4 linked regions of the Homo sapiens genome follow. The protein of the gene in region 3 interacts with the protein of the main gene of each other region in a pairwise test. Each region holds a gene or a part of one and is shown on either strand. Other genes may lie near its edges. The genes, in order: PPT1, PEX7, PIAS1 and CCT5.

Region 1 (7,730 bases), on a different chromosome or scaffold from region 3:
CAGGGGATATTTGGGGTGAACAGATGCAAAGTTTTCTCTTCAGGGCCAGGACTAGGGTGAGGCAAATTAAGCATCTAGGACAGCGGTCTTCAACCTTTTTGGCACCAGGGACCAGGTTTGTGGAAGACAATTTTTCAAAACTGTTCCACCTCAGATCATCAGGCATTTGCTAGATTCTCATAAGGAGCACCCAATCCAGATCCCTCACATGCGCAGTTCACAACAGCATTTGAGCTCTTTGAGAATCTAATGCCACTGCTGATCTGACAGGAGGTAGAGCTCATGGTGGTAAGGCTGCAGGCTCACTCACCTCCTGCTGTGTGGCTAGTTCCTAACAGGTCACAGACCCAGGGAGTTTGGGACCCCCGCTCTAGGGCACAAAATTTAAGGAGGCACTCATTCTCAGGTTTATGTAAGTGTTGACCCTGAATTTGAGAGTGAGTGCCTCCTTAAATTTGCACTTCAGGAGCCTCTTCATCTTGTCCTAGCCCCAGACTTGTTTCTTCTATTTCAGGGAACTAGAACTAGGAACAGGAAGCAAACTGGCTACTGAGTAGAAGTGGACTGAGATCATTTCCCATTTTGAACTTACTTATTCCATTTTCAACCTGCGAGAAAGCTTAAGCACCAATTTTAGAACAAGAAAAGGCTACTGCCTAGAGAATTGTCTATTCCTTTTATTTCTCTGAAAACAACGTTCTCCACACTGAGCTGTAATTGTAGGTTACTTAACTGCCTCTGCCTCCCCTGTAACTGACTGTGAGCTCTGGGAAAACACAAAGCTCCTACCCTGTGTCCTCTTTTGACCCCACTGTAGTAGCCCCAGGGCCTGTTGGAGAACCTTGCAAGTGTTTGTATTTGCTGACTCTAATTACTCTGAATATTTTTCTGTAACCCATCCCAATAAAGATCTCACTATCACGACTCTCCCAAAACTGCTTTTGTCAAGATTAATCATCTTTATATTGCTAAATCCAATAATCAGTTGTCAGCCTTTATCTTCCTTGACCCATTAACATTTGATACAGTTGATCATGACCTATCAACATTTGATGCAGTTGATCATGCCCTTCTTCCTGAAACATTTTCTTCACTTGGCTTCAAGGACACTGCGCTTTCCTGACCCCTCCACTTCACCGGCTATTTGGTTACAGCCTCCTTTGCTAGTTTCTCCTCATTTCCTCCACCTCCAAATGGAATGGAGTGCCTCAGGGCTTAGTCCTCTGTGTACGCTCATTTCCTAGGTGGTCTCACCTAGCCTTTAACTACTAGCTGTATGCCGAAGACTCCCTACTTAAATCTCCAACCCGTATCTCTGTCCTAGACTCCACACTCCAAATGCCTCTACAACATCTCCTGGGTGTCTCATGAGGATCTCAAGTTTAGTAAGCCCAAAAGCAGACTCTTGATCTTTCCCCCACCCTAAGTCAGCTTGTCCTACAGGCTTCCCCATCTTGGTAAAATGAAAACTTCACCCTTCCAATTGTTCAGGCCAAAACCTGTGGAGTCATCTTTGGCTCCTTTCTTTCTCTCTTATTCCAAGTCTGATCTGTTAGCAATCCACCTTCAAAATCTATCCAAACTTTGACCACTTCTCAACACCTCTACTGTTACTCTACAGTTCCAAGTCATCATCTCTTGTTTAAATTATTGCAATAGTTTCCTAACCTGTCTCCCTGTGACCATCCATGACGCCCTACGATCTATTCTTAATACAGCAACTAAAGTGATTCTTTAAAAATGTGTCAGATCATGTCACTCATCTGCTCAAAAAGTTCCCCATGACACTCTAGCCAAAGTCCCTGCATTAGTCTTACTAGGCCCAATAACTTCTGTACCTGCCCCTCCCTTCCAAACTAAACTCCTAACTTCTTCCCCTTGCTTACTCATTTCCAGCCACGCTGATCTGAATGCTGTCCCTTGAACACACCAGACATACTTCCACATCAGGGCTTTCCCATTTACTGTTCCTTCTACCAGACAGCCAAATGGCAACTGTCCTCATCTACCTCAGTTTTGTACTCAGATGTCACTTTTTCAATGAATTCTTTCCCAACTTTGCTTTATTAAAAGTGCAAGCCCCCACCTCCAGTTTTTATCCTACACCCTACTATATTTTTCTCTGTTGCACATATCACCATTTGATATGTTATGTTTTACTTGTTAATTTCTTTATAATCTGCTTCTCCTACTGGAGAGTAGGTTCCAAAAGAACAAAGAATTTAGTCTGTTTAGTTCCCTACTGTATCCTCAGCACCTAGTAGGTGCTCAATAACTGTGTTAAATGAATATAGGTTGAGCATCCTAATCTGAAAATGGGAAACCCAAAATCTGAAAGTTTTTCAGCGCAGACATGATGCCACAAGTGGAAAATTCCACACCTGACCTCATGTGATGGGTTGCACAAAATTATTTAAAATATTGCATAAAATTACCTTCCAGCTATGTGTATAAGGTGTATATGAAAAATAAATAAATTTCCTGTTTACACTTGGGTCCCACCCCCCAGATCTCTTGTATATATGCAAATATTAAAAAAAAAAAAATCCGAAATGCTTCCCAGTCCCAAGCATTTCAGATAAGGGTTACTCAATTTGTAAATGAACTGTAGGTGCCTAACAAATCTCTGTTCAATGTGTGAAGGAATAAATAAAAGGGTAGATGCGCCAGTCATATAGCCAGCCGCAGCTCACCTAGCCTGACCAAGTGAGAGATGCTGCATCCTGACGCCACTACTGTAAGGATTAATCAAGGACAGCATGTAAAACTTCAACGCCGTGCGCGGCTCTCTCTTTCCTTCCCCTTCTCTCTTTCCAGTGAAGGGGACGGCTCCTTCCCCTTCTCTCTTTCCAATGCAGATCCTTCAAATCCTAAAATGTCGAGGCAGCCGCGTGCTGTGGGACCACGTCCTCGCCCTCTACACCCGCATTTTGCAGATGCGAACCCAGGCTAGGAAGAGAGAGAATCGCCAAACCCTTTTAAATTTCTCACTCACTCACCCATCCCATGCCAGATCACCAACGGCAGCGGCGCCGGCGGGTCCAGATGCTGCAGCGCCCGAGAAGCGCAGGTCCATGGCAGGAGAGCCACAGCCAAGAGCCACAGGCAGCCGGGCGACGCCATCTTCGCTGTGTCACATGACCGCGGGCGCGAGACTCCGGGAACCGCGCTCCGCCCGCCTGGGCGTGGCGCCGCCGGTTGCAGATCGCAACCTGCGCATCCCGAACGGATGCCCAGCCTGATGGGCGTCGGCCCTACCCTGGAGCTTTCAGCGCGACAGGTCCCCCGCCAGACCCCGCTGGCCGAGTGGGGCTCTGCGCTCTCGTAGACCGCCCTCTGCGGTGAATCAAAATAATTGCTAACATATATTCAGTGCTGATCAGATGCTATCAGGCACTATTCTTACAACCTTTAACTAATTCACTCTTCATAACAATGCTGTATGCACTTCTCCCCCTGACAGGTGAGGACACTGAGGCACTGCGAATTGGCACTGAGTAAGGTGCCCAAGGTCACAGAGATAGCAAATTGGTGGTTCCAAAGTCGTTGCTCTTCACCACTGCCCTGTACTGCCTTTGCAAGAAACATGCACAGAGGAAGGAAGAAAGAAGGAGGGACGGTTTCCAGCCAGGACCAATCATGGCAGGGTGTGGGGTTTGTTCTGGATATTGAAGGAGAGGTAGGATTTCAACAAGCAAAGATGAAATTCAGAAGGACTGAGATGAGCTAAGGTAGAGAGGAGAAAGACAACTGTGTTTTCTAGAAATGTCGGGACTTCAAGACGGACGAAAGCATATGTTGGATGCATAAGAGTGAGGGGGAAACCCATGGCCACTAACTGGCCTAATCTCAGCTGGATTATTTCAAGGGTCTCTCATCAACCATTTCCTTTTCCATTCTCTCCTCTTTAATTCATTTTATGCTCTATTGCCACATTCATCCCTCAATCCACCTTCATAATATCAGTTCCCTGCTCAAGTTTTTTTTCAACAAAACATCAAAAAATAGTTTAAATAATTTATAAAGAAATTAGAGTGTATCCACTATACAATGGAATAATATGAGGCCAGTTTTATAAAAAATGAGTATAGGGCCGGGCGCGGTGGCTCACTCCTGTAATCCCAGCACTTTGGGAGGCTGAGGTGGGCAGATCATCTAAGGTAGCGAGTTCGAGACCAGCCTGACCAACATGGAGAAATCCCGTCTCTACTAAAATTACAAAATTAGCCGGGTGTGGTGGCGCATACTTGTAATCCCAGCTACTCAGGAGGCTGAGGCAGGAGAATCTCTTGAACCCGGGAGGCAGAGGTTGCGGTAAGCTGAGATCATACCATTGTACTCCAGCCTGGGCAACAAGAGCAAAACTCTGTCTCAAAAAATAAGAATAAAAAATAAATAAAAAGAGAGTACAGCCCAGGCAGCATAGCAAGACCCCATCTCTACAAAAAAAAAATTTTTTTTTAATTAGCCAGGGGTGGTGGTATGTGCCTGTAATCCTAGCTACTGGGGAGGCTAAGGTGGGAGGATCACTTGAGCCCAGGAGTTCAAGGCTGCATTGAGCTATGATCTCGCCATTGCACTGAGCTATGATCTCGCTGTTGCCCTGGGCAACAGTGAGACCCTGTCTCTCTCAAAAAAGAAAAATGAGGTAAATTTACATAAAGTGACATGAAAAATGCCCTTAATATGTTGTAAAAGAAAAGTCGATTACAAACCCACGGTCTGTAATCTCTTCTATTCCATGCCATTGGGACTAGAGGTAAGTTGTTAGTTGAAAAGTCGATTAAAATGCAGAATCCACTGGGCGCACTTTGGGAGGCTGAGGCAGGTGGATCACCTGAGGTTGGGAGTTTGAGACCAGCCTGGCCAACATGATGAAACCCCATCTCTACTAAAAATACAAAAAATTAGCCGGGCATGGTGGTGGGTGCCTGTAATCCCAGCTACTCAGGAGGCTGAGACAGGAGAATCACTTGAACCCAGGAGGCAGAGGGTGCAGTGAGCCAAGATTGAGCTACTGCACTCCAGCCTGGGCAACAAGAGTGAAACTCTGTCTCAAAGAAAAAAAAATGCAGAATCATAAAGCATTATACAGTACAGTATACAGTTTTGTTTTAAGAAAAATAAGCTTATTGTATAAGCATTTTATTTTAACTTAAGACTTACAAATTGAAGTAGTTTCAGGATTTTTCTGTGAATATAGCCCGCTCAATGAAGTTTCCTGCCTTTAATGAACTATTTATAATTTCTTTAAAGGTTTCTTTAAACTGGAGCAATAACTGAAAGACACTTGTGAAGCAATCTGAATGCAATTTTTTTTTTTTTTTGAGACAGGGTCTTGTTCTGTCCCCCAGACTGGAGTGCAGTGGCGTGATCTTGGCTCACTGTAACCTCCACCTCCCGGGTTCAAGCGATTCTCGTGCCTCTGCCTCCCGAGTAGCTGGGATTACAGACACACCACCAACATGCCCCGCTAATTTTTTGTGTTTTTTGTAGAGACAGGGTTTCGCCATGTTGCCCAGGCTGGTCTCGAACTCCTGAGCTCAGGCAATCCGCCCCCCTCAGCCTCCCAAAGTTCTAGGATCACAGCTGTGAGCCATTGTGCCAGACCAACATTCTTTTTGTTTTTTATTTTTGATTCAGGGTCACATATGCAAGTTTGCTATATAGGTAAGTTGTATGTCAAGGAGGTTGGGTGTACGTTTTATTTTGTCACTGCCATAATGAACATAGTACCCAATAGGTAACTTTTCATTTCCACCCTCATGTAGGCCCCAGTGTCTGTTGTTCCCTTCTTTGTGTCCATCTGTACTTAATGTTTAGCTCCCACTTATAAGTGAGAACATGTGGTATTTGGTTTTGTTTTCCTGCATTAGTTTGCTTAGGATAATGACCTAAGCAGTTCCATCTATGTTGCTGCAAAGGACATTATCTCATTCCTTTTTTGGCTGTGTAGTATGCTATGGTGTATACCTACCACATTTTCTTTATCCAGTCTACTGTTGATGGATACTTAGGTTAATTCCATGTCTTTGCTATTATGAATAGTGCTATGATGACTTTTTTTTTTTTTTTTTTTTTTTGCGACAGGGTCTTGCTCTATTCCCCAAGTTGGACTGCAGTGACACAATCATAGCTTACTGCAGCCTGGAACTCCTGGGCTCAAGGGATCCTCCCGCCTCAGCCTCTCAAAGTGCTGGGATTACAGGTGTGAGCCACAGTGTTTGGATGTGAAATTATTCTAGATGGAAGACTTTCCACTCTCAGATTTCCGACCCAGAGTTACTTTAACAATTTTTTTTAACAACTTGCCTTTAACAAGCTTTTCCAATGCATTCAACTTAGTTTTCACAGAAACATCTCTTTTCTCTTTATGCTCATATTTCATGTTTTCAAAAATTTAACTAAATTATGATAGCAAATATCACCGATATATTAATAAATAAATAAAATAAGCCCAAAGGCATTTAGTAAGCAAGTAGCTCAATTGACAGGAACAGAACTACCCAAGAGTTCTGAAAAGCAGCCTCTAGCCATGTGGGCATGCTGTGGGCATAGGTAAGTAGGTAAGTACATTTTAGAACTGGGAGAGTAAGTTAAACAGGGCATAAGAAAATAACTATGTATTTATGTACATACATATATGATGGTTGTACAACTCTATAAATTTACTAAAAATCATTGGTTTGTACACATAAAATGGGTGACTTTTATGGCATGTGGAATATATTTCAATAAAGCTGTTCTTTTTTTAAAGAAGACATCTGTGTATTTATATATTTGTACATTATCACTGAAAGGTCAAAGCATTGCCAAGAAAAAAGAGGCTGGGTGCGGTGGCTCACGCCTGTAATCCCAGCACTTTGGGAGGCTGAGGCGGGTGGATCACGAGGTCAGGAGATCGAGACCATCCTGGCTAACACGGTGAAACCCCGTCTCTACTAAAAAATACAAAAAATTAGCCGGGCGTGGTGGCAGGCACCTGTAGTCCCAGCTACTCGGGAGGCTGAGGCAGGAGAATGGTGTGAGCCCGGGAGGCGGAGCTTGCAGTGAGCCAAGATCGAGCCACTGCACTCCAGCCTGGGCGACAGAGCGAGACCCCATCTTAAAAAAAAAAAAAAGAAAGAAAGAAAAAAGAAAGAAAATAAATATTTAAAAAGATCTGGAGACCGTTAAAAGTAATATTCTTGAGGGCAGTATTACAAGGAACTTTCACTTTTTACTTTATATACTTGTGTTTGGTTTGAAATTTTACAGCAAGGATATACAATTTTTATAATAAAAATGGAAAATATACACACATTAAAAATTATTAGACTTCTAGATTAAGAAAATGGAGTAAAGCTATCTCACAGACTCTGTTTCAACCAATATCTAGGAAAGTTTAAAAAGTTAAAATTGTATCCACGGCAAAAAAACGTCAGTATCTTAAATGTCAGTAAGTGGTGGTCAAGGAAATAAATAGAAGATTCTGGGCTGGAGCATGTCAAGGCTTCCAGTTCTGCCTTCATTCCATCAAAACTCATACAATTAGATCCACAAAATCCTGACAATTAACACAAACATATCCACATACATTACAAGAGAGAAGAAAAGTAAACGCTTTCCTTCTCTTTCCCCTCCCATCTCTGGAAAATTGAAAATGGCTACTGGGGAGAAAAACTTGAAATGGGAAGTATGGAATAGACCAAATCTTTAAGATGGCAGTGAAGACTCAGGAAAACATGCTG
Region 2 (7,379 bases), on a different chromosome or scaffold from region 3:
ATAACAACATTTCAGCCAGTGACAGATTGCATATGTGACAGGGCCCGTAAGATATAATGGAGCTGAAAAATTCCTATTGCCCCCGAAAACCTTCCAGCAGGACAAGATGTGAAGGTAGAAGACAGTGATATTGATAATCCTGACTCAGTGTAGTCCTAAACTAATATGTGTGCGTCTCAGTTTTTAAAAAAAGAGTTTAAAAAGTAAAAAAAAAAATTAAATAGAAAAAAGCTTATAAACTAAGGATATAAAGAAAGAAAATATTTTTGTATAGCTCTACAATGTGTTTATATTTTAAGTTTTGTTATTATGAAGAGTCAAAAAGTAAAAAAAGCCAGGCATGGTGGCAGGCGCCTGTAGTCCCAGCTACTCGGGAGGCTGAGGCAGGGGAATCGCTTGAACTGGGAGGCAGAGGCTGCAGTGAGCCAAGATCACGCCACTGCACTCCAGCCTGGCAACAGAGCAAGACTCCATCTCAAAACAACAACAACAACAACAACAAAAAACTTTAAAAAAAATTAGAAAGTTTATGAAGCAAAAAATTACAGTGAGCTAAGGTTAATTTATTATTGAAGAAAGGAAATAAAAAATAAATTTAGTGTACAGTAATGTTCTAGGCCTTTCCATTCACTCACTACTCATTCACTCACTGACTCACCCAGAGTAATTTCCAGTTTTGTAAGCTCCATTCATGGTAAGGACCCTACTACCATTTTTTATCTTCCATACTATATTTTTACTATACCTTTTCTATGTTTAGATACAGAAAGCCTTACAATTGTGTTACAGTAGCCTACAGTATTCAGTACAGTAACATGCTGGACAGGCATGTAGCCTAGGAGCAATAGGCTGTTTCATCTAGCCTGGGTGTGTACTAGGCTGTACCACCTAGGTTTGTGTAAGTACACTCTGTGATGTTCACGCAAAGATGAAATTGCCTAATGCCACATTTCTGAGAGCATATCCCCATCATTAAGTGATGCATGACTGTATTTATGTCCCTGAAGTGGTCTGTTGACCGTGACAAATAGGTAAAATGTATGCTTTGTTTTTTTCCCAGTTTTAAATTAATTAAAGTTAAAAGAACATTGTATTGGCAGAGTTCTTTAAATAAAAATAAGTAAAATAAGTTAAAATATAGTATATATACAATGATATTACTCAATCTAAACATTTCAATGCTGATGACTATAGTTTCAAACTCATAAATGAATGTTTCATATTGGAAAATTAATTATGGCCTGTATGTTAGATGTTTGGGAACTCTAAAGAAAGATGCTGATAGACATTTGAGAGTGATTTACAAAAATTATTTTCTAATAACTGAAACTTTTCTTCAAATTAGCTTAAACTAAAGCCCAACATAGTCAGACAATGTTAGGTTGGTGCAAGAGTAGTTGCAGTTTTTGCCATTACTTTCAATGGCAAAAACTGCAACTACTTTTGCGCCAACTTAAATCCATTGCTGTTCTGAGTTATGTGGGGTGGACTGAGTGTGGACCCAGCACTTGTCCTATTCAGCCAGGACCTCTGGGTTCACTTGGGGCTCTAGATAGCAGAATTTGTAAAGCCGGAATAGATAAGAGACTCACCACTATTTGATTACATTCTTGGATATGATTAGATATCGTATTAAGAATTTTGGTCCAAGAGAGTTGGAAACAATGATTAATTTAGATTTAGAGAACATGGAAAAATTTAATTCATAGCCTTTGCTTTTTCAGATGTGCCTAAATGAACAGACCTCTTGCCTTTTAATGCCTGGAAAAACCTCAGAGTATGTTGAAACCCTTTTTGTTTGTTTGTTTTTTAGAGATGAGGTCTCACTGTTGCCCAGGCTGGTCTCAAACTCCTGGGCTCAAGTGATCCACCGGCCTTGGCCTCCCAAAGTGCTGGGATTATAGGAGTGAACCACCGCACCCAGCCTTGAAAACCTTTTTTAAATTTTTATTTTTTTTTTAGAGACAGGGTCTCGCTGTGTCATCCAGGCTGAGGTACAGTGGGGTGATCATACCACACTGTAGCCTCTGACTCTTGGGCTCACACAATCCTCCTGCCTCACTCAGCCTCTCAAGTAGCTAAAATTACAGGTGTGTGTTACCACGCCTGGCTAATTTTTTGGGTAGACAGGGTCTTGCTTTATTGTCCATGCTGGTCTCAAGTTCCTGGCCTCAAGTGATCCTCCCACCTTTGCCTCCCAAGGTGCTGGAATTCCAGGGAAAACCTTTTGAAGAGAAAGCTGGGCTCATTTGTCAGATAAAATTTTTAATCCCCTATGTATTTACTGCCGCTTCTAAAGCTGAATTAGAAAATCCACAATGCTGTTTGGAACTATGCCTTTTCCAGCTGTCTGTAGTGTTCCATCGTGTACATAAAGCATATTGAGTTCTTTTTCTCACAAGTCATATTAGTTTTTTGCTATTAATGTCTATGTTGATTCCTGTCTATACTTGTTATACAACTTCTCAAAAATGACTCCTTGGTTCATATTAAATAGTTATCAGAAAGCAGATGTTGTTTCTAGTAGGAAAGCCTGCATACTGTTTAATTGCAAAGATGTCACAGTTTATGTTTCTCTGAATTGTTTTTAGAATTTGCTGGTGACCGGGGCGGTTGACTGTAGTTTGAGAGGCTGGGACTTAAGGAATGTACGACAACCAGTGTTTGAACTTCTTGGTCATACCTATGCTATTAGGAGGGTGAAAGTAAGTTTTCATCTTTTCTTTTATATGTAGAATAAAATTATATAAATATAATCAATGAAGTGTATATTAAAAAGTGTTCTGGGTTTAGGGATTGGAGTTACTAATTCTTTTTTATATGTGTTTTTGTTACCCAATTAATTAGTAGTGAAAGCTAAAATTAGGCAAAAATATTTGAATAATGATTGAATGAATTTGGGCAATGTAGACATTCAATACTTAAGGTTAAATAAAAATCTTTTTCTCATTCTTTCACCTCCAATCTGTTTTTCCTTTAATATATTTTTTTAACTATAGTAATTCACTTTTAGTATTATGTTCTTTATAAGTTTCTAATTAGCGAGAGTCTCTACTTTGTTGAAACAGATGTAAAGAGATGGTTAATTCTTTCTTTTTCCTAACATGATAACATACATGACTGTTCACAGATGTTTGGGATATAGAAAGTTTTCTACTCTGTGAACAGCAGAGGATGAGGTAAATTTTTAATGATGGTCTCAGTAAATTTATCTGGGTTATAAGATGACTTAGGTTGGTTTCCTGGCTTTTATATTTAGGCAGGTTCTGCTAAATGACTGTGGAAAACATCTTATTAAGTGACATCTCCCAATTTCATCCTTTTGTTTTTTTACGTTAAGGATAAAAAAGTACCTTATTGATTATTTTAATAAGGTAATTATGTTATTCCTACTATTTAAAAAATTCTAAATTTTTTTTTCTTTTTTTTTGAGATGGAGTCTTGCCCTGTCACCCAGACACGATCTCAGCTCACTGCAACCTCTGCCTTCTGGGTTCAAGCTGTTCTCCTGCCTCAGCCTACTGAGTAGCTGGGACTACAGGTGTGCACCACCATGCCCGGCTAATTTTTTTGTATTTTTAGTGGAGACAGGGTTTCACAGTGTTGGCCAGGCTGGTCTTGAACTCCTGACCTCAAGTGATCTGCCTGCCTTAGCCTTCCACAGTGCTGGGATTACAGGCTGAGTCACTGTGCCTGGCCAAAAATTCTAAATTTTTAGTTAAGTTAATATTTTAAGTTTCTCTGGCTGCAATGCAACATAGGAGACACAGTGCTCTGTTTTATTTTTTAATAAATTTGTTTAATTGGACAAGTTTTAGCAGTTGAAAAATATGCTCTATGTATATTTTAGAGTGATTATGAGAATGAAATAAGGTAATGTAGTGAAAGTACTTTGCAAACTAAGTGCTGGTCAAATGTAGTTATATATGTGTATTTAACTATTAAAGTGCGATAAGACAAACACTGAAGAAATGTAATTGCAAAGGTCAACTTATTAAGTACATTATTACTCATCTAGAAGACGTTACTTGTCTTTAAACTTGCTTTTTACCCTTGATATAATTTTCCATTAGCTGTAATATACAAATAACGTAAAAATAACTTAAGGGTGTTTTTATTTAACATTTAAATGTTTATTTTGATAACGTGATTATAGCAATCATATATTTGTAAAATTGGTAAATTATATAATTATATATTTGTACTCTTATATACTTAAATCCCTTATATTTGTAAGAATCATTTTTGTTTATTACTTTGTTTGCTTTTGCTTTTTTTGAGCCAGAGTCTCTCTCTGTCGCCGGGGCTGGAGTGCAGTGGCATGATCTCGGCTCACTGCAACCTCCACCTTCTGGGTTAAAGCAATTCACCTGCTTCAGCTTCCCCAGAAGCTGAGATTATAGGCATATGTGCCACCATGCCCATCTAACTTTTGTATTTTTAGTACAGGCGGGGTTTCACCATGTTGGCCAGGCTGGTCTCGAGCTCCTGACCTGAGGTGATCTGCCCTCCTGAGCCTCCCAAGGTGCTGGGATTACAGGTGTGAGCTGCTGCATCTGGCCTGTAAGAATCATTTTTGGATAGCCAATATGAAATTGTATTTAATTTTTCCAGAATAGCAACATTTTGGGAATATTTTATTCTAAATAAGTTCTAAAAAGCTTGAGGGATAATTTTCTTTGGAGAATGTAAAAATATTTTTCCTGAAGATGGATACTTATAAGGCCAGAAGATTTTTGCCTCAAATTATAGCATATATGCTTTGAAAAAGCATAATTTTAAGTGACAGCTCTGACTCAACTTAAATTTATTATAATGTTTATGGAATGATCATAGAAAGCAGTGTTATAATCACAGCTGACTTCAAAAAGGGTTTTTTTTTTCTTTTTTTTTTTGTAGTTTTCACCATTTCATGCTTCTGTGCTGGCCTCTTGCTCGTATGATTTTACTGTAAGGTACAGTGGTTTTTAATACATTTCATTGTGAAATACCAGGTAACATTTGCATCTTTGCAACTTTTATAAGAGATAATATGATTACTCTTACTAACATGAAAATAATCTGAGATGGGTACATTTAAATATTTACTAGGATTAATATTATATTTTTCCTGTTTTCGTGATCCAGTCACATATATGAGTAAATTTTTTCTCTTCAAATATTAGCCTGGCTATTCTGTTTAAAAGCCATCTTTTCTAATAGATGTTCCTATGGTAACACTTTCCTACACTATAGATGGCATAGCCAATATATTCTAAATTTAGATATAGAAATTTGGAAATTGCATTTCTTCAGGTCTAATTATATGAGTCGTAAGGCTAAGATTGCTTAGATGAAAAAACAATGAACATGAGTGTATGATTTTTTGTGAATGTAGATATATGAACATGTATGTGTATATATGTGCATGGATATCTAGATAAGAGTGTGTGTGGGTGTGGGTCTCTATTTATACTTCCAGTTACAGTTCCATACCACAGAGGATTTATTTTCCCTTTCCAAATTTGTAACTCTTGACTTCCATTTTATTCACAATATATTTTCTTATGTGTTAAACCCTGTAATGCTTAGAAAGTAGTTCAGAATTGCAAAGCCATACCTTTGAAAAAAACAATCTTACTAATTAGAGCTCAGCACTTGCTTAGAGTTTTTTTTGTCTTTAGTTTGAATACTATATTCAGAAGTTACTTAGGTTAATTCTCCTCTTCTCTGTTAGAGTGTGGTTATGTTATTCACTTGAAACATGGTTTGATTCCTTTGTTTCTGTTTGTATTCAATTTTAGGGTTTTCCTCCCATCCTTGTTGATTTTGTCTAGGCAAAACATTGACATGGTTTCAAAAGTCAAGATGTACATAAAGATATATTCAGAAAGGTTTCCAGGATTTTCACTAAAATATATCCTGGAAATCATTCTGTATCAAAGAGATCATTCTCATTCTGCATAATACACCATTGTGTGGATGTGCTATAGTTTATTTGGCTACCCTCCTATCTATGGACATTTAGCTTGTTTTCAATGTTTTGTAAATAAACAGTGCCACAGTGAATGATAGCTTTGTGTTACTAGAGAATTAATGTCTGGTATTCCTAGAAGTGGGATTGCTGAGTTAAAAGGTAAACATATGTAGTTTTGTTAGATATTACCAAATTCCCATCCATAAGGAATATGCCAATTTTGATACTCAGTAGCAATGTTTGAGAGTACCTGTTTCTCTGCCTTCTAAAGATCATTGATTCATTAAGGTTTTCCAGATGTATGATCTTATCACCTGCAAATAAAGGTGGTTCTACACCTTCATTTCCAATTCTGATGCCTCTAATTGATTTTTCTTAAAATTCCCTCCACAAATACCACTAATACAGTGCTAAATAGTTTATAGAGAATGTCTGATTCCTGATATGAGTACAAACGCCTTTAGTGTTTCTCTATTAAAAATAAGATTCTGACTTTAATGCAAATTATATATGTTTACTTGTTTGTCATACTAAGAAAGTATGCATGAATTCCTATTTTCTTGAGTTTTTTTAATTAGGAATGGGTCTTAAGTTTTGTTGAAGGCTTTTTTTCCCAGCATTTATGGAGATAATCATGATTTTTCTTCTTAGAGATATGGCTATGATGTATTATATTAATGGATTGAACCAACCTTGCATTCCTGGAGTAAGTCTCTCACGTTCTTTGTGTATCATTTTCTCACCATGGTGTTGAATTGTGTTTGCTAATATTTTATTTAAAGCTTTTGCGTCAATATTCAAAGGTGATATTAGTTGCAGTTTTCTTTCTTTTCTCGTTTTGTTTAATGTGTCTGTGTTTTACTTGCTTCATAAAAAGAATTAAGAAATTTTCCTTTGTTTCCAAAGCTCTGGAACAACTTGTACAGCATTGAGGCTATTTGGTCTTTGAATCCTTTGTAGGATTGCTCTGCAAAACTAGTGGAGCATGGTGCTTTTTGTGGAGTACTTTCTTGATAACTTCATTTCTTTCATGGAAGTGAGTCTGTTTAAACTTTGTATCTCTAACGGGATCAAGTTTGGAAATTGTCCCTTGCTTTTAGGTTTTCAAATTTATTCGTAGAGGTGTCTGTAAAGTGGGTGGACACAGTGGCTCATGCCTGTATTCCCAGCACTTTGGGAGGCCAAGGTGGGCAGATCACCTGAGGTTAAGGGTTCAAGACCAGCCTGGCCAACATGGTGAAACCCTGTCTCTACTAAAAATAGAAAAATTAGCCACGCATGATGGCAGGTGCCTGTAATCCCAGCTACTTGGGAGGCTGAGGTGGAATTGCTTGAACCCAGAAGGCAGAGATTGCAGTGAGCTAAAATCATACCACTGCACTCCAGCCTGGGTGACAGAGTGAGACTTTGCCTCAAAAAAAAA
Region 3 (7,379 bases):
CTGTCGTCCCAGCTACTCAGGAGGCGAGGTGGGAGGATCGCTTGAGCCAGGAAGCGGAGGTTGCAGTGAGCCAAGAATGTGCCACTGCACTCCAGCCTGGGCAATACAGCGAGACCATCTCGGAAAAAAAAAGAAAAAAAATAAGTAACACTCATAGTCAATAATTATTATGCCTCATACCAATCAATGAGAAATCTCTAATCAATAAAGACATATGATGTGAACTTATTCAGATATATTGCCTGAGATATTTAAAAACTTGAAAAGACATCCCCTGAGAAGGTAAAATTTGACTTCAATCTCATATAAAGCAAACAAGATGAGTCACCATACTTTTATATGACTACAGATGGCTCGACTTAACAATTTTCCAACTTCATGGTGGTAAGAAAACAATAGGTATTCAGTAGAAATTACTTCGAGTACCTACACAACCATTCTGTTGGTAACAAAACCATTCTGTTTTTCACTTCAGTACGATATTCAATAAATTACATGAGCTATTCAATACTTAATTATAAAACAGGACTTGTGTTAGATGTTATGTCAGCTAATGTAAGTGTTTTAGACACATTTAAGGTAGGTTAAGCTAACCTATCATGTTTGGTAGGTTAAGTGTATTAAGTGCATTTCTGACTTTGGATATTTTCAATTTATGATGGATTTATTGGGACATAACCAGAGGAGTATCTGTAGTCCAAATGAATGCAAAGCTCTCTGTTCTATACATGTTGGCCTTTGAAATAATTAAAAATATTAAAAATATTTAAAAGCACTATATTAAAAATGTATTTTCTATTTGAAAATTTACCTGAGTCAAGGAAGATATAAATAGCTAAACTAGTAACAAATATAAATCTATTAATAGATTTGTTTATACTTAAGTCTGAATCAAATCAAATACTGTATCCTAAAGAACTATTATTTTATTTACCATGAAAGTATTCTGTGTTTTTGCCATTATGTTCTAACAAAGCCAATTTAAACAATAACTATAAACAATATTATAAACTATTTTGAATGATACAGGTATTATTCTAAACAAAACAATATTAAAGGATTGAGAGGAAATATCAAATAATTATCTTGTCCCTGAATGGACAAGATATTTTAATCCAAAATTATTTTTCCTTTTATTTTCATAATTATGTAAATTTCACACCTCATCAACACCAATATTGGCACACTAAGCAATAAGGTATTTCAAACAAAGTACCCCTTAACACATGTGCTCAACATCCTATCAAGATTAAAATTTTCTTCCATTATTTATATGGATCAATAATACATGCGGCTGCCAGGTTACGTGAGCTAGTGAGGTTCTCCTCTCCTTCAAAATGAAACCAGAAATACACACACACACACACACACACACACACACACACACCCGTAAATGACTAACAAAAAGAATACCACAGAAGTATTTTAAAAGTTTATCTGTAAAGTAAGCAAGTAATTATAATTTCTATGGATTCTACATTAAACATAACATTTTTGTAATTAGGGAAAATTTTTTTTAAATGGAGTATATTAAATTTCAAAGACATCAATTAACCTCAGAGATGACAGGATAGGGCAATAAGAGGAAGAATACCATTCTTCCCTACTCTATTTCCCATCCCTATCATAGCCACTGTTTGTAATTACAGAGTGTGGTATGGCTCAGTTGTGTTTGCAAGGTAAAATGGTTAAAATCCACTGAATTAAAATGAAATAAAAGATTCCATCTACTGCATTAAAACGAGTTGGAGAGCTAATAAATGTTTACTGAACTACCATGTAACAGGTTCATATCTAGCTATTATAGGGATTTATAGATAAATGCCTCAGAAGCCTTATCATTTTGAGGAACAAAACAAAAACATTTAATAAAGGGTAAATTAAATGTTAGGACAGCCTGGGCAACATAATGAGACCTCAACTCTACAAAACATAAAAACAAAAATCAGCCAGGTGTGGTGGTGCATGCCTGTGGTCTCAACTACTTGGGAGGCTGAGTTGGGAAAATTGCATGAGCCAGGGAGGTTAAGGCCACAGCAAACCAAGATCTCGCCGCCACATTCCAGCCTGGATGACAGAGCGAAACCCTGTCTCAAAAAATAATAATAATTATTATTATTATTAAATACAATTTAAGTTGGGTGTGGTGGCTGACGCCTGTAATCCTAGCACTTTGGGAGGCCAAGGTGGGAAGATCACTTGAGTCCAGGAGTTCGAGACCAGCCTGGCTGACATGATGAGACCCTGACTCTACTAAAAATACTAAAATTAGCCAGTCATGGTGGCACGTGTCTGTAGTCTGAGCTACTGGGGAGGCTGAGGTGGCAGAACTGCTTCAGCCGGAAAGACAGAGGTTGCAGTGAGCTGAGATTGTGCCAGTGCACTCCAGCCTGGGCAACAGAGCAAGACCCTGTCTCAAATAATAAAATAAAATAAAATTTAAAAAATAAATGTTATGAGGCCGGGTGCAGTGGCTCACACCTGTAATCCCAGCACTTTGGGAGGCCGAGGTGGGCGGATCAACTGAGGTCAGGAGCTCAAGACCACCCTGGCCAACATGGTGAAACCCTATCTCTACTAAAAATACAAAATTAGTCGGGCATGGTGGCACGTGCCTGTAAGTCTCAGCCACTTGGGAGGATGAAGCATGAAAATCACTTGAACCCAGTGGGGCGGAGGTTGCAGTGAGCCTAGATTGTGCCACTGCACTCCAGCCTGGGCTACAGAATGGGGCTCTGTCTCAAAAAAATAAAAATAAAAAATAAATGTTATGAGAGCATGCAGGGAAAGTGAAATTGATTCTGGCTGGGGAAGAAATGTACAGATGAAAGGAGGACAGCCTAGAAAGATAAATGAAAAAGGTTAAAGAAAAAAAGCATTTGAAATAAGCCTCATAGAAACAAACAGAATTGAGATAATGAGAGGCCAAAGTAAACAATAAATTAAACATCTTACTTTACAACCACCTTTTACTTCACCTCTCAATTCTTACAGTTAATTATGGACAATGAAAAGAATACTTTAATTATGGCTCCAAAATAAAGGCCTTAAAATTATTTTAAATTGTTTTAAAGAAATAACAAAATGATCGTAAGAATGAATGAGAATTACCTAATAAAATGGGAATTATCAGAACTACTGTCTTCCATTTTAGTTAGAAATACAAAACCATGCATAAAAACATTCAGTTTACATTTGAACATCTTAAAATCTGTTTAAATCTAGTGCTTAAGGCCACAATGGAAGGGAAAAAATGAAAAAGTAAATGTGCCTGTCCCATTCTGGACTCAGTGATAGTTGTGATCAACTAGCCAGCTGGTGTTCGAAACTATGTTCTCAAAAACTTGATTTTAAATGTATGTACGTTTAGAAATGAAGAGAATGCTGGAAGCTATTTAATTTTCCAGAAAACGTGGTTTTCTTAGATTTAAAACAAATGAACTACCGGCAAAAATAATCATTTAGGAAACTAAGTTATGTGACAAATGTAGCCACTTCATTTAATGAAGTACAGAAAAAGTCTTAATAATGTTAAAGAATTTATAAAAACAGAGCCTTAAAATATACTCATCCTACACCCTGAAGACTAATTACATAAAATCTTTTTTCAATAAATATTTTTCACATTCAATAAGCATTGCCCTTCAACAAATATTTATTGAGCCAATAAACTTCCACAAATTACTTTGTGGTGAGATCTTTTTATGCATATTAAATTGGTTTGTTTTTAATTCTATAACGATGAGATACTGAAAATCTATTTACATATCACTAAGCAATTCTATACCACCTATTCATTTGGTGACTTTCTGTGAATACATACCACAAACAGCAGATTTATTCATGAAAACTGGCATTCAAATCATACTTCAAATATAGTCAATTATTGCTATTTGTGACATTTATGTTCATAAAATCACCACAAACACTGAATTTGCGAATATATAATCACTGCTACCAGGGGAAGTATAGGGTTAGGTTCCTGCAAGCCCCTGGTCACAACGTTTTCATCAACTGATCAATACATAACACATATGTACACATACATACATGTACACAGACCATATACAGAGATATGGATAGATACAGATATGGCCTTTAATTTAAAATGGGATATATATATATATATATATATATACACACACATAATCAGACAGACAAGAAAAGATGCATATGATATATTATTAAGGGGAAAAAAGGGAAGTTATACAATACTATGTATATGATTCCTTCTGTAAAAAACAAGAAACAATTTGCTTATACTATATATGCATACACACTAAACAGCTAACAAGGAAGGAACTTTGGCAATTCCATTTTTTACAATGAGCATGTGTCAGTTTTATAAGCATACAGTAGATTCTCAAAAAATGTTTTCTTATTATGGCCACTTAAAAAATAAAATAATGTGATACAAAACTCACGTTGTTTGAAAATGACTCCTATAATCTTCGTGTATTCAGATAATTTCTGCTAAATATAATTAAAAACAAACACTTCATATTTCAAAGATAGAATTTCAGTAAACATTTTCAAAATGTTCTCAAAAATTCGCAAAAAATGTTCTCAACACTTGCCAGTCCCCCAAACTGAAATGTTCAATGATCTGTAACAGGGATTCACAAGCTTTTACTATACGGGTAAATATTTTGTGCTTTACAGGCACACATGGTCTCCGTTACACATTCTTTGTTTTTGTTTCTTTCCTTTTTTGTTAATAACTCTTTGGGAATATTTTTCAGATTTCTTAGCTCAGAACCACATAAAAACAGGCCACAGACTGGACTTAGCTTGCCAGCCGTAGTATGCCAACAAACCAGCATTTAGAAGTCTGATATTTTAAATATATTATACCAAAGGCATCAGAGGTCACAACAGTTGAGTTTTATTCTACGTTAAATAAATAAGGTAGCATTATAGCAATTAAAATTACAAGTTGATTAATATATTGAATTCTATATGCTAGACTACAAATCAAATGATGGAACAACACAGTAAAATAAATTTCAAGCACTTATATTATATAACCGTAATCATGAGTGTGCATGTGCATGTGCATGCCTGTAAAGCATGCACTTCTCCACTTGAAAAAAATCAGCTGAAATTTAACTAGCATACATCAAAGCTCAAGTCTCCTTTTATGATCATTAAAACCATTCACTCATTTAAATAATCAAAACTAGTCAGTGATTTGTTTTAGAGATCATCAACCCCTGAAAATTAAGAACTAATCAGAGACTTGTAGTGATTCATTTGGTTTTAATTTAATTTATGAGATATTATAAAATATTAATCAACCTTCTAAAATACTACTCTTTGGAAGTTTATATTCTTGAAACTTTTTAATATTTACTTTGTCAGTAACCATCACTATACTACCTTTTTTCCTGAAAGACAGCTTTTATATATTTGATTTTATCTAAATTTGAAAGATCTTCATTATTATCCAGCTGTTACTATCAAATGAAAATTTCATTATGAATAATAAACTGGGTCAAAGTAAAAGCCTAAAACGAAAATTCATCCTGCAAAAGTAACCAAATACTATCATACAATAATCTTACCTAGACTGGTGGGTTTTATCAGTTCATCCAGTAAATCATAAAATGGTAATTTTTGAAGTTTTATATCCGGATGGACTGGGTGAAGAGCTGATGTAAGATGTGGGAGTTCCAGTTCATGTTTAGGTCCCAGAAGAGAAACAGGGAGTAATGGCGATGATGCAGGGTGACCATCGTAAGTGAGTTGTGGAATGGTAGATGGAGACAAAGTTGCTGGCATAGGACTTGAATGTACGTTGGGGATGGACAAGTCTGCAGGCGTCATGATTTTCTGTGGGAACCGCCGCCTATAGAGTTCCTTAATTTTCATTTGCACAGCAGGACTACAGCCAGCCTTTAGCAAATGCAGGGCTTTTGTGAGAAGTTCGTGTTTGCGTCCGTGCTTGTTTCTCCCGGCGTAGCCCAACAGTACTTGGAGTTCAGAAACTCTAAGGCTCATAACCATTTGCTTAGAGAAAAAACAAAATGTAAAACATTAGTATTCCAATAATATAATTTACACTATTAAATGACACTTTATTATAACCCCCTTCTTATGGTTTACTTAAGCAAATAAAGGCCAGCTCACTTATAATCCTATTATTTCAAACTTCAAATTTAATCATTTAACGTTAAGTAACCAAAGAAATTTAAAATTAATATTCATAAATTCATTGACTTCTACCCTTGGTTATAAGAAATATAGGATAAAGTATACACCAGGGAAAACCACACCTCACTTTATTCCACTGTTTTGATGAAACTGTCAGGTATTTATCAAGCACTTACTGAGTCTCCAGGAGAATGTCGAGTGCTATGTAGATGGCAAAACGTAATGATGTGCTCTCAAGAATATTTTGTTTTCTTGGGGAAGAATTATAAGTATATATGAAACAACAAACAGTCCATCTCAAACACCAGATGTAGGCAGGATATCAATAGCTATTATCAAGTGTTACTTACATTCTGTACTAACTCTGGAATTTGTAGACTTAAGTTACACCTTTTTTGACCAATTATATATCAGATATTCTATTTGATATTTTCACATGGAATGTCATTATCTTTACAACTCCGCAAGGTATTATCCTGCCTGATTTATACATGAGGAGACAAGTTCAGAAAGGTTAGATAACTTATAAAGCCATAAAGCTACTAAGGAGTAGTCAGGATTCAAACCCAGATATGTCTGATTCTAAAGCCCATGCTCTTTCCACTAAACCATTAGGAAAAAGACAGAGCTGGACTCATATTACTGACTCTCACTTAACTTGCAAGGCCAAGCTAGAAGTCCAGCAACCCAATTCATATGCCATAATGCATGAGGCTGCAGTAATCTATTTAACTTTGTTTACCTATGTTCGCAAACTTATTTAGTCCCCCTTTCTCCTTTTTCCCCACCTACTAATAGGAAATGACCATCTATACCAATCCTCCCATTTTAAAGTGGTGGAAAATGGAATCCAAAGAGAAGAAATCACTTACCCAAGATCACACAGCTATTAGCAGAATCCTAAAAGATTGCATCACCACTGACAGGGAGTATTAGGATAAAAAGACACATGTAAGCTTACCATTTGCTCTCTATTTCTCCAACTAATTCCTTCACCTCATACCAAATACACAAAAGCTATGCTTATGCTGCCTTCCCTAACTCACCACCACTCACAATGATAACCCCAGCCAATTCTCTAAGGGTTCTTTGCAGGTGGCAAAACCATTAAGCAAAAAATAAAATACTGAGGAGAAAAGTATATAAAGAGCTTTATAAGCAATATAGCTGGTTAATCAAAGAAATATGAGTCCTTCCTTTACTTCTCTGGCTTGGAAAACTCTTTC
Region 4 (7,379 bases), on a different chromosome or scaffold from region 3:
AGTGGACAATCCTCAGTGGATCCATAAACTAATTCGGGCACTCACAGAGGCAACCCTGCTTCCAGTAAGAAGCACCCTCACCCCGACCTGCAAATGGCAAAGTCACTTTTCCCAATTAGGAGGGCAACGATCAGGCTGCCCACCCCACCTCTGGTGCTCACCTGGGACTGCCACACCGTGCCCCACAACTCTGGCTTACCTGTCTCCATCAGGCCTCCCAGGCTACCTGCTACTGCCTGGCTCTCCCTCTCTTCCTTCCCTGACCCTCTGGAACTCAGTCCAGAACAGCAGCCTCCTTATACAATCTCTCCGTCACAACCCCGGAAAACCAACCTGCCCCTGCAACCCTCCTCAGATGGCAGCTGCTTTCCCTCTCACATGCTCAGAACAGGAGAGGGTCCTTCTTGCTCCTCAGTCACCTGCAGTGTTCCTCTTTGGGTCCCTGCCTCTCATTCTTTAACATTTTACTATCTAGCCCCATCGTCATTCCCTTCTCATTCTCAGCAACCTGCGCCTCACCAGCACGATCCAGTAACATCCCTGGCCTCTCAATTTATCTGTGGCCCCCCAGCACAGCTGAGGCACCATTCTCATGAAAACTGTCCCACCGGCCCAGATGATGGCCTTTTATTTATAAGCTCCCGCCAGCATGCTTCAATCCCTGAGGCTGGCTCTTCCTTGTACAAGCCAACAATGTTCCTGGCTCAGGAGCATCCCCATCTGTCCTCAGCCTGGAATGCTCCTCCCCCAGGGGCACTGCTCTCACCCTATGTTGGCCTCTCCTTACAGGTCACCTCTCTGACCAGTGTCTGTAATGGAGCTGTACCCACCTTTCTCTTATCTGTGTCTCAAGAGCACGAGCTTGGCTTCATTCCCTGCTGTACCTTTAGTGCCTACAACAGAGCCTGGTATGTCGTAGGCACCAAGAACCGTATCATCAATGAGTACATTCAACAACTTTCCCAAGAACAGACATGAAAATAGTCTCTAGTTGGTTTGCTATGATAAATAATACCCTAACCAACCCACGTTCCTGTCTTCTTGAGTACTGGTGTTTTCAACTCCCAAGGACGCAGCCCCCAAAGAGGAGTTGCTATGTCAGAGAGAAAGCACACCTACGCTAAGGTATTCATGAACCCAAACTAGACTTAACTGAGCAAAGAACTGGGATTACTATGAGTGCATTCTGGTTTAACTCCAGTTACTCATTAACTCTTGCCTAAAAGGTATAGTCAGAAATCTTAAAGGCAAGGTAAGCTAAGTTAAATTTGTCCAGGACGGCAAATATAATATGTACAATTGAAAGCACGGCTTTAGGTAACAGGGTCACTTCTTTCAGGACCCTGAACACACTACCATTTTTTTTGAGACAGAGTCTTGCTCTGTCGCCCAGGCTGGAGTGTAGTGGTGCAAGCTCAGCTCACTGCAACCTCTGCCTCCTGGGTTCAAGCGATTCTCCTGTCTCAGCCTCCTGAGTAGCTAGGACTATAGGTGCCTGCCACCATGCCTGGCTAATTTTTTGTGTTTTTAGTAGAAATGGCGTTTCACCGTGTTAGTCAGATGGTCTCGATGATCTCACGATCTGCCTGCCTTAGCCTCCCAAAGTGCTGGGATTATAGGCATGGCCACTGCACCTGGCCTGAACACGCTACCATTTTAAGACAAAATTAGAATTCTTCCCTGTTTATGCCTTTCTATGCAATTTGGTTTTTTCCTGTGTATGTTTTAGAACTGAAGAAAGACTACACATATTTACTAACCAAACCTAACTAACTGTACCCTTTGGGAGTTTAAATTCCACTGAGGACTCTGGTAAGACTTACTTGTTGAATCATCTCTTCAAATTTCTCCTTTTCGTATTTCTGAAGGGCTTTATAATCTTCGACAGAGGTCACATCCAGCTTATGCTTTGTTTTTGGTTTGGGTGGTTCAAATGGACATGTGAGAATTGCAATCTTCGCATCTTCCACTTTCTATGGGGGAACATAAAGACATTTTAATTGGTGGAATTAAGAGTTAACCAACAGTGCGAAGCTGTGAGATGCAATGGCTCACTTTTGGCATCTGTGGGTGACTGAAATCCTTGTCCACAATCACGCCCTTAATCAGTTTAGTGTCCTCCAGCCTGCCGCCCACTTTGCCTTCTACTTTGATAAGCTCAAAGTCAACGTCTCTCCGCTCCATATCTGCTACAGTGAGGACGGCATTCACAGCAATCTCAGCCATCTGTCGGTGACAACTGTTGACCCTGAGGAAAACACCACAAAACAAACTTCATTGGTTTCACAATTACTGCAACCAAAGCAGGCCACATAACACAATGTTACTCAAAGATATAAATCAAACGATGTTTTGAGTCTTCTAGAGGGGAATGCCATCTCAACCTGCATTTTCAACAGTCTGGGGCAGATTCTTAACCTGTGATCCATGGGCCCTAAAGGGGACTGTATACTTAGATAGGAAAAAATTACATCTTTATTTTCGCTAACTCTGAAATTTACTATTTCCTTCCATTATGAATGTACTCAAGAAACCACTGTAGTCTGGCATGAATTAAGGTCTTCTTAGAATGCAGCACTTTTACAGAATACTGTTACTATTTTACAAGTTCAGAACAGAATGGGAAAGGTAAGTAATCACTCAGGAAGAGTCACTCTTATCTCAATGAAGTGTAGCACTAACCAGGAACTGAAAGGACTGGACAGGGCATTTAAACTTTCCAAGAATTCACCACAACATCCATTATAGATGGAGGGTGTTACCTTTTTGAAAGCTTTGAAACATGTGAATAGACAGTTCAATAAATTAATTTTTGAGCCAAGAAAAACAACTAGGGAAACCTAGCACTTGAAATAATGTCTGAAATCACAGGTTATCTATAAAAGAGAACCATGAAAGTAAACATGTTGTATCTTAAGTAGATGACTTAATACTTGCAAACAGAACAAGGCCAACTTATAAAGCAACAAGAAAACTGATTTGTACACTTCAAGTAATGATGATGTCCTCCTTTCATGAGAAAATAAGTGTTATACTTGTGACAAGAGGCTACCCCTAGGGTACTCACTCTTGCCTAGGGAGCTAGTCTCTGCTGAGATCTGTGGTTAGAGGAGGACAGCAGGCATTGCTGAAGGCTTCTGCTCTAACATAGGCTTTGCTCAGGGGAAAAGGCAACAGAAGCAGACACTTTTCCTGCATTTTCCCTGACTACTCTGAGTTTAGAAGATCCCTCATTCCTTTTTGCTAAAACCACCACAAGCACACAATTGAAAACATCTCTCACTGATTTAATATAATGTAATAAAGCAGCTTACACTGGATTTTTATGTTATATTACGGCAACAGACCTTAAGTCTTTGGCATTGTACATAATCAGCGCACCCCTTGGCTGAGGTTGCTTAGAGTCTCCTGGGAGAAGAGCTGTGTCTTAGTGCCCATAAGACCTGGCAGTAAGCCTGGCAAACGGACATTACACGAACGCTGAAAACACCAGAGACAAGTCGCTTTCAAGACTCTCTTTACTAAATTATAATTTTGGATCGGCAATTTGCTGAATAAAAAGTGGAACCCACCCCCAATGGCTCCCCAGCAAAGAAATTATAGAAAGAAGTGTTAAGAAAATTCACATATCCTCCAGGTAGGACCCTTTCTAGTTGACTTTTTTTTTTTTTTGAGACAGGGTCTCGCTCTGTTGCTCAAGCTGGAGTGCAGTGGCATGATCATGGCTTGCTGCAGCCTCGACCTCTCACCTCAGCCTCTGGAGTTGCTGAAGTGTGTGCTACCATGCCTGGCTAGTTTTTTGTTTTGTAGCGATGGGGTCCCACTACATTGCCCTGGCTGGTCTTCAATTCCTGAGCTCAAGCAAGCTACTGCTTTGGCCTCCTAAAGTGCTGAGATTACAAGTATGAGCCACTGCATCCAGCCTTAGCTGATTTTTAACACAACCTATTCTGCTAAATTAAAATAACTATATTTTGCAAATATTGTCAAGGGGATTTATACCTGAACTTAGAAATTCAGTTCTCAACTTAAATACAAAATGCATCTGTCTACATCTACATTAAAAACAAAGCAAAACCAAGTAATCAAAACAAATAATCAAATCGATACAAATCCACCAGTGGTCATTTTGTGTTGCCTTTAAGAAATGGCAAACAAACTGCCTCCTCTACAAATGGGTAATCATATCATCTACTGAAACGTACACTTTGGAGCCCAGCGTGGTTTTTGCTGTCTGAATCAGGGGTTCGGTGTCCTTTATGTCAACAAGGACGCTATCGCTGATCTTGTCCAGGTGTTCAATAGCAACACGAGCAGCCTGCTCATAGCCATCGGCTATTCTGATTGGGTGAATGCCTCGGTCTAGCAATTGCTCCGCTTCTTCTAACAAGGCACCAGCCAGGACTGCAAATAAGCCAGCAGACAATCAGTTCAGGCAAACAACAAAACTTCACTTTTAGTATAATCAGCACAAGTTAGATGCTATCATGGAAAGAAGCAGCTTCTAGAATTAAGCTGCAAGTCATCTTAGAGGCAGAAGCCCTCTATTTTTAAAAGAAAGCCTCGTTTTAGTTCTAGCGAAGGTCGAATAGGACATGTGTCCCCTTACAGATGAACATTCAACCCTCAGTGATGTGAAGAACGTAACTAAAGAATATAATGTAAAAAGAACATTTTTCTAAGAGGTAAAAAGCTATTATGTTTCCTGGGCCAGGGTCTACTCAGTGAAATTCAGCCTGGTGATGAGACTAAAACGTGTTTATTATTTATTCCCCCCACCCCCATCCTCCTTTCTCCTCATTTTAGGGTCGCAAAGATGAATTTTGTTTAAATCTACAGCTCTCCAAGCGCACCGAGAACAGTGCTTGGCATACAATAGTATCCAATAAATATTTGTTGAATGAATTCAAATTTCATCTGCAGAAAAGGTAACCTTACTGATATTTTGTCTTCAATCTCCCCAACTTTTTAAAGATTTCAAATCTTCAGAAAAAAAAGGTACAATACTAAAACGAATACCAGTTTACTTATTAACATTTTGCCACATTTTCTCTACATGTACATACTGTTTCTGTTCAACTATTTGAGAATTAGTTACAGAAACCATGACATGTCACTCCTAAGTATTTAGGTATACAGCTGAGAAGAAGGGCATTCTCCTACACATCTGCAATATAATGGTCACAGATCACTCAGGAAACTCAGCATTGCAGTACATGATCCAAAATCAAATTCTTCCACGTTTCCCAAACATCCTTTATAGCTTAAAAGACAAGCAAAATCAGTGTCCAATCAATCATTACACATTTCTCCATGCCTAACAATCCCCAGCCCTCTTTCTGTTCTTTTGTAACACTGTCAGTTTTGAAAGTCCGACATTTGTTTTGTAGCATGTTTTCAACTTGGATTTGTCTGTCTCCTCATGCTCTGATTCAGAGACAACAATCTCAGCAGGCATGTTAGCCCTGTGGTCTTAAATGACGTCTCTTAAATGAGAAAGGATGTTTTGTCTTTTCTTACCAACCACTCCTGTGGTTCCATCTCCAATTTCATCATCCTGAGACTTGGACAGTTCCACCATCAGCTTGGCAATCTGATGATCAACATCCATCATGCTTAAGATGGTGGCCCCATCATTAGTTACAGTCACATCTCCATCCTTATCCACCATCATCTTATCAAGCCCTAAAAAACAACGTTTAGTAGGCTTTGCGCAAAAAACTGGCAACCAATATCACAAACTATAAAACAAGACCTCCTGACCCAGCTCTTATCTGTGCAATTTATTATATACAAATAATGCAACATACACAAAATAGTAGCTGCATGAAGGCATTTTTAGATTGGCTAACATAATTGGCAAAACATTATGGAGCATCATTAAGTATAATGTTAATCTCAAAAGACAACTATGATTTGGAAAATGCTAATGAAATGATGTTACATGCTAAAAAAAAAAAAAAAAAGGTCCGACCTAATATTGCACACGATTATAACCATGTTTAAGAAACCTGAAATACACTAAAAAATTTTGGCTGTGTTAAGGAAGTAAGATGCCTCCCCTCAATACTCCACCTTTCTGTAGAGAGGTTTATATTGACAGTTTTATAATTTAAATCTTTTGCTAAAAAACACGGAATGGTGGACTCTTACCATTTGGTCCAAGTGATGTTCTCATTGTATTTGCTACAGCCTTTGCTGCCATTATATGAGACTAATGAAACAAACAGAAAAAGCAAACACTGTTACATATAATTTCAATGGTTAAAAGCACACATCTGATGACTACAAAAATCACTTATGACTTAGTTTCTATTGTCTAGAAGCTTCTACATTTAAGGGGCAACAGACAGGTTTAAGTATTATAACATTTACGACTCCAGTTTTAATAAGCAATTCTTACGTAAAGAAAGAGAACCAAGTGCTTTGTGTTATCTCACTGAATTTTCAACACATTAATGAGACAGATTCTTTTACCAGCCCATTTACAGCTGAGAAGAGGGACAGTATGACTATGACCTTACAGGCGTTGCAAGACCACTGTGCAACACAGTCCTCCCTGAGCATCCATGGGGAATTGGTTCCAGGAGCCACAGTTCTCCCTGAGCATCCATGGGGAACAGGTTCCAGGAGCCCCCGAGGATACCCAAATTCACAGATGCTCAAGTCCCTTGCATCTAGGCTTGTACATCTGCGGGTTCCCCATCTGCAGACAAGGAGGGGCCTGTACTCATGAGAAACAGTCCAACTGTAAACATACAACACCTTACTGTCACACTATGATTTACTGCAGAATTGTAATCTTTTGAGCTGGATGCAGTACTAGAGCCTGCAACCCCCCCTACTTGGGAGGCTGAGGCAGGAGGATTGCTTGAGGCCAGGAGTTTGAGATCAGCCTGGGAAACATGGCGAGACCCCATTACAAAATAAAAAGAAAAACTGCTCTTGCTTTAAAAATCTTCCTCCACCCACCTGAAATCCCAATAATTATATTTATAGATCAAAGTTACTGACTGGCCTTTTTTTTTTTGAGACAGTCTTGCTGTGTCTCAAAAAGGCTGGAGTGCAGTGGCATGATCTCAGCTCACTGCAACCTCCGCCTCCCGGGTTTAAGCGATCCTCCTGCCTCAGCCCCCCAGTAGCTGGGATTACAGGCACGCGCCATGACGCCCTGCTCATTTTTTTTTGTATTTTCAGTAGAGATAGGGTTTTGCCATGTTGGCCAGGCTGGTCTTTAACTCCTGACCTCAGGTGATCCACCTGCCTTGGCTGCCCAAAGTGCCAGGATTACAGGTTTGAGCAACCACGCCCGGCTGAAACTGGCCCTCTTAAGGAAGGTAAGTAGCTGTCAAAGTGATAATAAAAAAGTTACCTGTTTT

What was found.
Region 1: the proteins of PIAS1 (region 3) and PPT1 interact in binary tests that used the Homo sapiens proteins (3 or more experiments, as listed by UniProt).
Region 2: the proteins of PIAS1 (region 3) and PEX7 interact in binary tests that used the Homo sapiens proteins (3 or more experiments, as listed by UniProt).
Region 4: the proteins of PIAS1 (region 3) and CCT5 interact in binary tests that used the Homo sapiens proteins (3 or more experiments, as listed by UniProt).

The regions. Positions count from the first base shown.
Region 1 is NC_000001.11:40,094,116-40,101,845, forward strand, and holds the start of PPT1 (palmitoyl-protein thioesterase 1 isoform 1 precursor), read right to left. Parts: upstream 3,138-7,730; 5' UTR 3,124-3,137; coding exon 3,000-3,123; intron 1-2,999. UniProt on the Homo sapiens protein: Has thioesterase activity against fatty acid thioesters with 14 -18 carbons, including palmitoyl-CoA, S-palmitoyl-N-acetylcysteamine, and palmitoylated proteins. In contrast to PPT2, PPT1 can hydrolyze palmitoylated proteins and palmitoylcysteine.
Region 2 is NC_000006.12:136,867,299-136,874,677, forward strand, and holds part of PEX7 (peroxisomal biogenesis factor 7), read left to right. Parts: intron 1-2,591; coding exon 2,592-2,705; intron 2,706-4,899; coding exon 4,900-4,955; intron 4,956-7,379. UniProt on the Homo sapiens protein: Receptor required for the peroxisomal import of proteins containing a C-terminal PTS2-type peroxisomal targeting signal. Specifically binds to cargo proteins containing a PTS2 peroxisomal targeting signal in the cytosol.
Region 3 is NC_000015.10:68,084,936-68,092,314, reverse strand, and holds part of PIAS1 (E3 SUMO-protein ligase PIAS1), read right to left. Parts: intron 6,010-7,379; coding exon 5,565-6,009; intron 4,471-5,564; exon of another isoform or gene 4,425-4,470; intron 1-4,424. UniProt on the Homo sapiens protein: Functions as an E3-type small ubiquitin-like modifier (SUMO) ligase, stabilizing the interaction between UBE2I and the substrate, and as a SUMO-tethering factor. Catalyzes sumoylation of various proteins, such as CEBPB, MRE11, MTA1, PTK2 and PML.
Region 4 is NC_000005.10:10,252,980-10,260,358, reverse strand, and holds part of CCT5 (T-complex protein 1 subunit epsilon), read right to left. Parts: intron 6,215-7,379; coding exon 6,154-6,214; intron 5,686-6,153; coding exon 5,521-5,685; intron 4,405-5,520; coding exon 4,206-4,404; intron 2,249-4,205; coding exon 2,056-2,248; intron 1,974-2,055; coding exon 1,824-1,973; intron 1-1,823. UniProt on the Homo sapiens protein: Component of the chaperonin-containing T-complex (TRiC), a molecular chaperone complex that assists the folding of actin, tubulin and other proteins upon ATP hydrolysis.